3 linked regions of the Homo sapiens genome follow. The protein of the gene in region 2 interacts with the protein of the main gene of each other region in a pairwise test. Each region holds a gene or a part of one and is shown on either strand. Other genes may lie near its edges. The genes, in order: ZNF524, ZNF526 and THAP12.

Region 1 (3,750 bases), about 13 Mb from region 2:
CTCTTCCTCCCCGGGCAAAGGCGAAGGCAACGGGTCTGGGCTGGGGGTGTCCATTGAGCAGTGGGGGGCTTGGGTCTGGGCACTGGAGCCAGCTAAGAGGAGAGAGGGGCAGAGTCAGTGCTCACAGGGTCTAGAGCACCCCTGTGTCCCCCAACACCTCGCCCATCCCTCTCTCCAAGTCTCTTGACAAAGGTGTGTTTGACATTCATCCAGATACACAATTTTAGCTATGCTGGTGGGTAAAACAGTGAGATGATCTTGTATCAGCTGATAAACAGGCACTTCCCTGAGCTCCACCAGACATCCCTATGCCTCCCTAACTCTCCTTCTGGATCTAGAAGTTCAAGATCAACATGAGCAACACCCCTCCCCACCTCCCCACAAAAAAAAACCTTCCAGAGAGGATAGAGTCCAACTGAGAGTGCAGACCAGTATTGTGATCCTTGAAACGGAGAGCCCATCAAACTCCAGAGCCATAGAGGCCTCACGAATGCTCTCATCCCTCCCTGCTGACTGGCAGAAGTGGGGAAGGGGTTCCAGAGTGGAAAAAAGGGACTGGTCCCAGGTGATATTTGACCCTGATTCCTGGATGAGGAAACATATCTGCGATGTTAAGAGCCTGGGCCCTGGAGTCAAGACATCATTCGTTCAAATCTTTACTCTCTGCGTGGCCTTGGGCAAGGTGTTCGCTTCTCTAAGCCTTAATCAAGACTTTTGCAAAATGGGACACATAGTTCTACGTACTTGCCCAGACATGCCATGAGCATAATACCCACAAAGTGTTCATACACAGAAGCTTTCAGGACACATTAGCCATTGTTATCAGGAGCAGCTAAGCCTCACATCAACCCTCTGAATAGGGCATATCTGTCCCATTTTGCAGATGGGGAAACTGAGGCACAGGAAAGCCAAGTCAGTTGCCTAAGTTCCTCTGCCAGTAAATGGCAGGGCCAAAACTGGAAACAGGTCTTGTGACCCGAATGTCCCAGAGAATGGAGAACAAATAAACCCAAGGAGGAAAGGGGACATTACGAGGGCTCAGTCCTGGGTTTGAATTCAGCTCTGCCTATAACTAGCAATTGACTTTGCCAGTTTCCTCCTCTGAAAAGTGAATAAACCAGGGTTGTCAGGAGAATCGAATAAGACAGTGGGCTTTAAAATGCCCCTCGAACACTGCCTGGTGCACAGTAAGCACTCAATAAACTTCACCAACGCCACCACCATCTTCCCGGCGCCCACTCAGATACTGGGAGCATGGGATTGGGGTGTAACGGAGGGGAAGGGGAGGCACAGGTGCAGCTGGAAGCAGGTGCTGCAGGTGCCCCCCTGCACCCCCCCCTCCCCTTTAACAGCCACATAGACTGCTGTCCAGAGAGGAGCAACCACCTTTCCATACGGTTCGCTCCCACGGGGTAGCCTAGTCTAGGAGTCTGGTCTTTGGAACGGTGGAAAGGGGGAGACTGGTCCCCCGACCCTCCCCGTCCCCTCGCCCCGGTACTGACGCGCCCATCGGCCCCCGAGCTGCGAAGCCCAAGCGCGGGGCGGGCCCTGCGGGGGCGACGGCCAATGAGCGGCGCCGGGTAAGCGGGCGGCGGGGGCTGCCAGGAAGGGGGTCTGCGCGCGCGCGCCCGGACGGCTTCGCGGGGCGCGAGCGCGGGAGCAGGAACAGGTGTTGGAGGCGCGCTCCGGGAGCGCGCGGCCCGGCCTCCCCTACCCCCACACCCCCCCTCCCGCCTGCGCCCCCCGCCTCTCGGGTACCTCATTTGCATGTCGCCGGGGCTCGCGAGTGTGCGCGCGCGCGGGGGCAACGGGGCCGGCGCGTGGGAAGGGGAGGGGGTGAGGGGGCCCTGCCCCTCGGCGGCGGCGAGGCGGGGGCGGCGGCGCGCGGTGCCGGCCCCGCCCCTCGGAGAAGCGCCGGGCCCCTCCCTTCCTGCCCTTCCCGCCCGCCTGCGCGCCCGCGGGAAACAAAGGGGACTCGCTGGGTCCTAACGACCGGTCGCGGCCACGCCCGGAAGCCGCGCCTGCGCACCGGCGGCCCTGGTGTGTCCCCAGTGGGAAATAACCCAGCACCACATCCCCAACCACCTCGAAACGCCTTTCCTCTCACAAAGCCCACAGTCGGGTGACCCAAAGACAGATACCGAATGATGAGGAGCGGGAAAATGGCTGCCCAGTGCCCGTAATTAACATGGCACCGGACAGGCTTCGAAGCCCATGGAGTGCTAAGTGGATAAGATGGTGCCGGTCTTTTCCAGCTCTGTATTGCAGTTGGCGCACTTCGCTTTCTTTTTTTTTCCCTAGTCCAACTGTACATCCTAATCGGAGGAGTCCGAGGCTGTGAAAAAGAAATAGTATCTGCTCTCATTTACGTTAGCATCGCCTAGTGTCGCCACGGAGAAGCCCCCTCGCTCTCAGCTCCTTGCCCTTAGTCTGTATGGCGCCGTGGGTGTCCCTAAGCCCCGCCCCTTCCCGCTGCCCTCACCCAAGATGGCGCGGGCCTGGCTTCTTCAACCTCCAGGGCTGGGAAAGGAAAGGGAAAGAGGGAGAAGGGCGGGGATGAGGAAGGGGAGCCAAGAGGGCGGGAGAAAGGGGGAGTACGGCGGGGGAAGGGAGCTGAGGCGGAAGTCGAGGGGCCCCCCGGGTGGAAGTGACGCTGCCCCCGCTGCCCAAAATGTCGGCGCCCAGAGGGAGGTGTAAGTAATTAAAGAGGAAAGCCGACGGACTTCCCCGGCCTCCCGGGGCCGCCCCGGGTCTCCAGGACCAACGCTCCGTACGAGCGAGGTGGACTCGCCTGGCCCCGGGGCCTGCCCGACCTGCCCCCCAACCGGGCGCCCAGGGCTGCACCTTTTAGGGGCAGGGGGAGGGGCACAAAAGGCCGGCTCTCGGGGCCTGGGGCCTGGAGCAGACTGGGCAAGTGGGGGGGCCCGCTCCTCAGGCTGCGGGGTGGAGGAGGAGGCGGGGCCTAGTGGCTGCTGGGGCGGAGCAAGGGCTGGGAGGAGCCTGAGTTGGGCGGAGCTTAGAGTGGAAGTGGGAGGGGCGTGGAGGAGGGAGAGTCTGGATAGAAAATGGGAGGGTCTTAGGCAAAGAGGTGGGGTTTGATAAAGGGGCGTGGCTCAGAAGGAATGGTGGGTAGGCCCTGGATTGAGGGGTGGAAGGAAACTCATTGAGGCTGGTTGGGTAAAGGGAGCCCAGGAAGCAGGAGGGAGGAGTTTAGAGTAGAAGGGATGGAGTTTGTCTGGGGTGTGGCTTAGAGAAGTAGGTAGGCCTAGTGAGGGGGGTGGAGTTTAAGGGTGTAATTTGGAGGGGTTTAATGCAACTATCAGGTCTTTATAATGAATGTGGAAAGGACTTGCAGGGGATGGGAATAGACTTCGTAGAGAAGGCCTGAGAAGGTGACGGGAGTCCAGTGGAGAGTCTTAGAAAGGATGTGGCTTCTTTAAAGGAAAAATTGGGTGGAGTTTTGGAAGTGGGTCTTAGTGGACCCGAGAGGGGCTTAGATAAGTCAAATAACTTAGCAATCATGGTAGGACTTAAGGAGGAATCCAGGAGGAACTTACGGGATAATAGTCATCCAAACAGCTTACTTGTTGCGTCTTTGCTGTGCACCAGCTTAAGTGGGCACGTAGCATTTATTGCCACAATTTTACTTAATTCTCGCCACCACTCCATGAGGTAGGTACTACTATTCCCATTTTACAGATGAAGAATTTTTATTATCTGATGTTACAGGAGTAATTCTGGTCTCCCTGC
Region 2 (3,750 bases):
CCTCCTGTGGGCAGAGCCTGTGCTGACTTGCTCCTGGGTCTCCAGCATCACCCAGTCTGGAGCTGAGGACCTGGGTACCTACAGATTTCCTTCCACACTGTCAGAATTGAGATGAAGGAAGCCCAGAGAAATCAAGTACCCTCCACCAGGCAGAGCAAAGTCCTGGGTGCCCAAAATCCAGGGAAGGCAAGGGCTGGGGGTACAAGCAGAGGATCTGAAGAGGTATATGAGAGTGGCCAGCACAGACCTGGCATAAGCTTGGTGCTCAGTGAAGGTTACCTGATGTTGCTGGGCACCAGGGTGATGCAGTGCAAAGGGCCTTGGCCAACCCACTTTGCAGCATAGCTGGGTGACCTGGTACAGATCACATCGCATTTCAGAGCTTCAGTTTCCCCTCAGGCAGAGAAAGATGACAAGAGAAGCCTGGAAGGGTTGTTCTGGGGAGTCAGTGGGTAAAAAGAGGCCAGGGTGGATCCTGGCACATGGTGGGTACCAGACCAGTTTGTCAGAGGAGGTCCTCTCTCCCCAGAGGTACCCACACTGGCTGTTGCAACCAAACCCTTTTGTTGTTGCTTTTCAGCTGCGTCACACGAAGGCCGTGTCCAACTGCAAGAGCCCGCCTGCTTCACTGGCCCCCAGTGCAGCCTGGCACAGCTGCAGGGTGTCCTCAAGCGCCAGTGGCTGGGATGTCTCAATGATGGCGATGGTCTCCCCCAGCTCTGTGCACATGATAGTCTGTTGAGGCTCTGGAGGTGGGGGTGGGGCAGGAGATGGTGATCTGGGAGGCTGTAGCGTCAAAGTCCGAGCTCGGGCATGGACCCGCTGATGCAGTCGCAAGCCCGCCATGGCGCGGAACCAGCGGCCACAAGTCCCGCAGTAGTAGGGACTCTTGTTGTAGAGACCAGTGATGGGGAGGCGGGGGGCGCGGGCAAAGGCGACTGGCCGCAAGTGCAACCGCCGGTGCTGCTGCAGGTTGGAGCTCTGTGTGAAGCGCTTGCCACAGTCCAGGCATTGGTAGGGACGTGCACCCGTATGGGTCAGCTGGTGGCGGCTGAGGTTGGCCAAAGAAGCAAAGGTCTTGCCACATGAGTGGCACTGGAAGGGCCTCTCACCCGTGTGTGTCCGCAGGTGGTTGCGCACGTGGATCAGCTTCTTGAAGCCCTTGCCACAAACCCCACAGCGGTGACGCCGTTCAGGGGGCCCGTGTACTGCACGCCGGTGCCGGGACAGCCGGGAAGCTGAGGCAAAGGACTTGGAGCACTGTGGGCAGGGCAGCTGGGCAGGTGGGGCAGGGGGTGGTGGTGGAGGGGTGGGCTCCGCTGGAGCTGGGGGAGCTGTTGCTCCTGTGGGAGGTGCCCCGCTTTTGCCGGCGTGAGTGCGCCGGTGGTAGAGGAACTTGGTCATGTTGCTGAACGTCTTGCCGCAACGACAGCGATGCAATGGGTTGGCAGTGTGGGCCCGCCGGTGAGCCACCAACGTGAGTTCTGTGCCAAAGCCGCGGCCACAGTCTACACAGAGGTAGCGGGCTTCCCCGCGATGCAGCCGCAAGTGCTGCTCAAGCGATGCTGCTTTCTTGAAGACCTTGGAGCAGGTTGTACACTCATGTGTGCCACCAACATGGGCCCGCCCATGAGCCTGCAGCCGGTTGGCGGAGCTGAAACTGCGCTGACACTGGCTGCAGTGGAAGGGGTGGGTGGCAGATGCCGGGCTGTGAGCCGTCCGCCGGTGTTGCCGGCGAGCCCCTGCTGAGGGCTGGTGCTGGGGACAGTCCCCGCAGCCCTGAGCCCAGCCAGCTGTGGACTCGTCACCTCCCACAGCATCATCACCGACCTCTGCCATGGCCTCCTCATCCTCCATCTCTTCATCATCTTCTTCATCCTCCTCATCGTCCTCTTCCTCCTCCTCCAACCCATTGCGCTCCTCTTTCTCTAGGGAGTCAAAGTGGGTGCCCTGATGCTCCAAGAACTCCTCAGGGGTGGCGCAGAGGGTAGAGCACTCAGGACACTCATAGGGCTCCATCTTGACTTCGGATGGGGGAGAAGGTGGAGGCAGTGGTGTTGGGGGAGGCAAAGGAGGTGGCACTGGTGGCTCAGCTACCGTAGCAGAAAGGTGCTGGGCCTTTCGATGAGCCACCCACAGCTCGGGCGAGGGGAACAGCTCCTGGCAGTCCCAGCACTGGTATTGGATCTGGTTTGCAGACTCTCGGAGGTGGGCATCCTGGTGGGCCAGGAGCTCCCCAGGGGAGAGGATGAGCTGGCTGCATTCACCACACTGGAAGGGCCCCTCAGCACCCGGCACCAGCTCCGGCTCCAGGCCAACATTCTGTGTGGTCAGTGCCTCCTCCTCTGAGACAGCAAGCATGTGCTGCTCCTGGTGTGAGAGGACTTCCTCCAGTGTGTTATAGAGGCTGCCACACTCAGAGCACATGAACTGGTGATGCTGGAAGAAGAGGGATGAGGCAAGGGCCTCCCCAGGTGTCATCTCAGTCACTTCTGTTGACATCTCCATCATCTCTGCCGACATAGGTGTTGACATCTCCACTGCCCCTGGTGACATCTGTGTTGGCATCTCGGCCACCTCAGCCACCACCTCTGCCATTGTGGGGAAGGCAGTGCCTGGAGAAAGAGGGGCAGGAGCCAGTGAGACAGCAGGAAACCAAGGGGAGGTGGAATTCTCTTGCACATCCCACTACTCACCAGCTATCGCTCAGGAAGTCTTAATCCACTGTTTCTGCTTCAGTCTTCCGTGATCCCATGTCTCTGAAGCCTACACACACCCCACGGCAGCCTGCAGGAGAGAAACACCACTCAGCCCAGCCTCTTTTTTTTTTTTTTTTTTCTTCTGAGACAGAGACTTGGTCTGTCACCCAAGCTGGAGTGCAGTGGCACAATCTTGGCTCACTGCAACCTCTCGCTCCTGGGTTCAAGCTATTCTCGTGCCTCAGCCTCCTGAGTGGCCGGGACTACAGGGGTGTGCCACCATGCCTGGCTAATTTTTGTATATATATATATATATATATATATATATTTTAGTAGAGACAAGGTTTCACCATGTTGGCCAGGCTGGTCTTGAACTCCTGACCTCAGGTGATCCACCCGCCTTGGCCTCCCAAAGTGCTGGGATTACAGATGTGAGCCACCACCCCGGCCAACAGCCCGGCCTCTTTTTTTTTTTTTTTTTTTTTTTGAGATGGACTCTTGCTCTGTTGCCAGGCTAGAGTACAGTGGCGCAATCTCGGCTCACTACAACCTCCACCTCCTAGGTTCAAGTGATTCTCCTGTCTCAGCCTCCCGAGTAGCTGGGACTACAAGTGTGCGCCACCATGCCCAGCTAATTTTTGTATTTTTTTGTTGTTATTGTTGAGATGGAGGCTCGCTCTGTCGCCCAGGCTGGAGTGCAGTGGTGCAATCTCTGCTCACTGCAAGCTCTGCCTCCCAGGTTCAGGCCATTCTCCTGGCTCAGCCTCCCGAGTAGCTGGGACTACAGGCGCCTGCAACCACGCCCGGCTAATTTTTTGTATTTTTAGTAGAGACAGGGTTTCACCGTGTTAGCCAGGACAATCTCAATCTCCTGACCTCGTGATCTGCCCGCCTGGGCGTCCCAAAGTGCTGGGATTACAGGCATGAGCCACCACGCCCGGCCAATTTTTGTATTTTTAGTAGAGATGGGGTTTCACCATGTTGGCCAAGATGGTCTCGATCTCTTGCCCTCGTGATCCGCCTGCCTCGGCCTCCCAAAGTGCTGGGATTA
Region 3 (3,750 bases), on a different chromosome or scaffold from region 2:
TGGTCTCGAACTCCTGATCTCAGGTGATCTGCCCGCCTTGGCCTCCCAAAGTGCTGGGATTACAGGTGTAAGCCACCGTGCTTGGCTGGCACCACATTCTTAGATATGACACCAAAATACATGCAGTAAAAAGAAAAATAGACTAATTGGACTTCATCAAAATTAAACTTTTGTGTATCAAAGAACATTACCAAGAAAGTGAAAAGAATGGAAGAAGGTACTTGCAAATAATACATTTGATCTGGGTCCAGTATCCAGAATATATAAAGAACTCTTACAATTCAGCAACAAAAAGACAACCCAATTTTAAAATAGGCAAAGGACTTCTTTCTTTAAACAGAAGATATAAATGGCTAAAAAGCACATGAAAAGATGCTGAGCATCACTCGTTATTAGAGAAGTTCAAATCAAAACCACAAGTGGCAGTTAGATGTAGAATTACTGTGTGTCCCAGCAATTCCATTCCTAGGCGTATATCCAAAGAATTGCAAACTGATATTCAAAAAAACCAAATGTACACACATTCATAGCAGCACTATTCGCAATAGTCAAAAGGTAGAAACAAGCCACGTTTATCAGTGCTTGAATGGATAAACAAAATGTATATCAATACAATGAAATATTAGCCATGAAAAGGAATGAAGTGCCAGTACATACTACAGTATGGGTGAACCTCAGAAACATTATGCTAAGTGAAAGAAGTCAGATACAAAAGCTTATATGTTGTATGATTCTATTATATTAAATATCCAGAATAAGTAAATCCATAGAGATAGAAAGCATATCAGTGGTTGCCTGGGGCTGGGCGAAAGGGAGAGTGGGGAGCAACTGATTAATGGTTACAAGGTTTCCTTTTGAGGTGATGAAAATGTTTTAGAATTAGGTAGTGGTGATGGTTGCAGAACATGATGAATGTGTTAATTGCCATTAGTTTTTTACTTTAAAATGGTTAGTTTTATGTTATGAGAATTTCACCTCAAAGAAAATAGATGTCTTGAAGAGAGAATAGGATATACAAGTCTGAAATTCAGAGACTTTCAAACCGGAAATTGTAAATATGGGTGTTCTCAGTTTATAGAGGGTATTTAAAACCGTGGTACGGGTTAAGGTTATCTAAGGAGTGAGCAAAGAACAGATCTGAGGATTGAGTCCTGGGGCATTCCCAGTGTTTTAAGTTCCGAGACATGGGAAAGAACTCGCTCAGTACAGTGAGGAGTAGCAGTTGGGAACAGAGGAGAGGAGCATCTTAGTCTGACTTGGCCTTGCCCCATTATGCGTTATCTTCCTTTTACCCAAATTTTAGCCCAAAGACATTCTTACAGGTTTATTTCACTTCCATAATGAGGGCACCCCTAGTCAGTTCTGGACCACAGGTCATTTGTATTAATATGTAGTGAATCCTGTTTTGACTACACTCCTTAAGGGGAGTATAGTCTATAGGGGTTTACAGTTTCAGATTTGAAAGAAGTGTTTAGATCTAGTGAAATCTCACTTGAAATACTGGAATTTTCTCAATAATAGTGACTTTTATCATTTTTAGGGTTATTATCCCTTTTGAGAATCTAGCATAAGGACTCTTACCTGAAAAAAAAAAAAAAACAAAAAAAACATAGACACAATTTAGCATTCGAAGACAAAGATGTTTATGGGCCTTTATAGGCCCTGTGCATTCCTGACAGATGGGCATCTTTGCCCTTGCTAAAACACCTCTAATGATAGTCCTCCCCTTTGTGAGAAGACACGTGATGATTCTGGACGCTTTGGCTGTTGTTTCTTCCTTGTATTGAGTGGACATCTGCCTCCTGTAATTGAGGCCTTGGAGGTCCTAGTTTTGTTCCCAGGATCACACGAAGTCTCTGCCCTTTTCAACGTTAGACTCCTTTGAATGCTTCAAGACCAAATCATGAATTTCTTTTTAAAAAGATGTTTATTGAGATGCAATTCACATATAATTCACCCATGTAAAGTGTACGATTTGGGGTATATACATTAATTTTTAAAATTTTGGTAAAATACAACAGAATTTGCTAATTTAACCTTTAAGTGTGCAATTCAGTGGCGTTAATTACATTCACAGTGTTGTGCAACCTTCTCCACTATTTTCAAAACTTTTTCATTTATCCCAAACAAAAACTGTAACCATTAGGCAATAACCTCCCATTCCCCTGCCCTTCCAGCCTTTGGTAACCTCGAATCCACTTTCGGTCTTTATAAATTTGCCTGTTCTAGATTCCTCATATTGGTGGAATCATACAATATTTCTCCTTTTATGTCTGGCTTGTTTAACTTAATATGTTCAAGGTCTTTTTATCCAAATCAAACCTCCTCGTACTACATGATTTTAAGTTCTACTGTATTTGATAGTTTCCATTTCACTGTGCCCAGTGTTATTTATAACAAAGAAGTAGTTTCCAGAGGTGTTATTGAATTAATAACAGTATTTTTAGGGTTATTAGTTCTAACCCACCCCCCCCCCACCTTTTCTTCTATAAACAGGTTGTAGGGAAGGTTGATAAAAGGTGACATTGCCAGTCTAGTCTTCAAATGCTAACATTGTTAACAAACAATAAAGATGAATATATTTAATGCTATTAAAACAGTACATTTCCCAGTCATCAGTTATAAATTCCATGCATGCTTTTAGAAACAGCTATTTAGAAATAATTTAAACTTCAAGAGTGTAATTAATAAAGTGTATGGTGTGGAATCACATACCATAATAGTTCTTATTGTTTTAGAAAACGTGGCATTAATATGCTTCTTTTTTAAAAAAGTGAAATAATCAACCCAGCTTAGGTCAGTGACACGGTTTAAGTAAAAAAAAAAAAAAAAAGCCTAAGTCTTGATTGCCCCAGGGTGGCTTGCCTAATGCCAAGGCTTGCCACTGTGAGGCAGCTCACAGTGGAGCTCTTCCTAAACCAGGAGATGGTACAGGTAGAGCTAATGAATTGCTCTGATTAGAGTGAGATGGGCGTTGAAGCTCTCTTCTTCCTCCTCAGGCAGCTAGTACTAACTCACCCAAGATGGGTGAGGGCTTCCAAGGTTCTTCTGGCAATTTAATGAAGGCTGATTGAGAGCTGGTGTGCTCTACTTTGTGAAATGTAAAACAGTGGTTTTCTGGGGACTCGTGAGGGTGCCTGTTTGGGCTGTTATAACAAAATACCTTAGACTAGGTGATTTTTAAACAACAGAAATTTATTTCTCATAGTTCTGGAAGCTGGGAAGTCCAAGATAAAGTCACCAGCAGATTTGGCATCTGGTGAGGGCTCACTCTTGGCTTCTTAGATGGTGCCTTCTTGTTGTGTTCTCACATGGCGGAAGGGGCAAATAAGGCTTCCCCGTCATGACCTAAGTCATCTCCCAGATGCCCCACCTCCCAACACCACTGCACTGGGGATTGTTTCAATATGAATTTTGAGGGGATGCAGACATTCAGACCATAGCAATCCCCAAGATCCTTTCAGGGAGTCCACAATGTCAGAACTATTTTCATAATAACACTGATATTATTTGCATTTTTCATATTTGGTCTCTCAGGAGTGGACAGTGGAATTTTTGGGTTGCTACATAACATGATGGCATCATTGCTTTGATAAATTTTGTGTTGTGTTTTCTAGAATTTTCTAAATATTATTCAGATCTGAGTGTTCAGTAGACATTTTCTCAGAAATAAACAAGCCTGCCACTTCAAGGAGAACAACTGATAATTTGAGCATTCAAGTTGAAAATTAGAATTTTGGAAAATTTATG

What was found.
Region 1: the proteins of ZNF526 (region 2) and ZNF524 interact in binary tests that used the Homo sapiens proteins (3 or more experiments, as listed by UniProt).
Region 3: the proteins of ZNF526 (region 2) and THAP12 interact in binary tests that used the Homo sapiens proteins (3 or more experiments, as listed by UniProt).

What each region holds. Positions count from the first base shown.
Region 1 is NC_000019.10:55,598,417-55,602,166, reverse strand, and holds the start of ZNF524 (zinc finger protein 524), read right to left. Parts: upstream 1,880-3,750; 5' UTR 1,759-1,879; intron 93-1,758; coding exon of another isoform or gene 55-92; coding exon 1-54.
Region 2 is NC_000019.10:42,223,252-42,227,001, reverse strand, and holds part of ZNF526 (zinc finger protein 526), read right to left. Parts: intron 2,788-3,750; 5' UTR 2,697-2,787; intron 2,616-2,696; 5' UTR 2,599-2,615; coding exon 586-2,598; 3' UTR 1-585. UniProt on the Homo sapiens protein: May be involved in transcriptional regulation.
Region 3 is NC_000011.10:76,374,474-76,378,223, reverse strand, and holds part of THAP12 (52 kDa repressor of the inhibitor of the protein kinase), read left to right. Parts: intron 1-3,750. UniProt on the Homo sapiens protein: Upstream regulator of interferon-induced serine/threonine protein kinase R (PKR). May block the PKR-inhibitory function of DNAJC3, resulting in restoration of kinase activity and suppression of cell growth.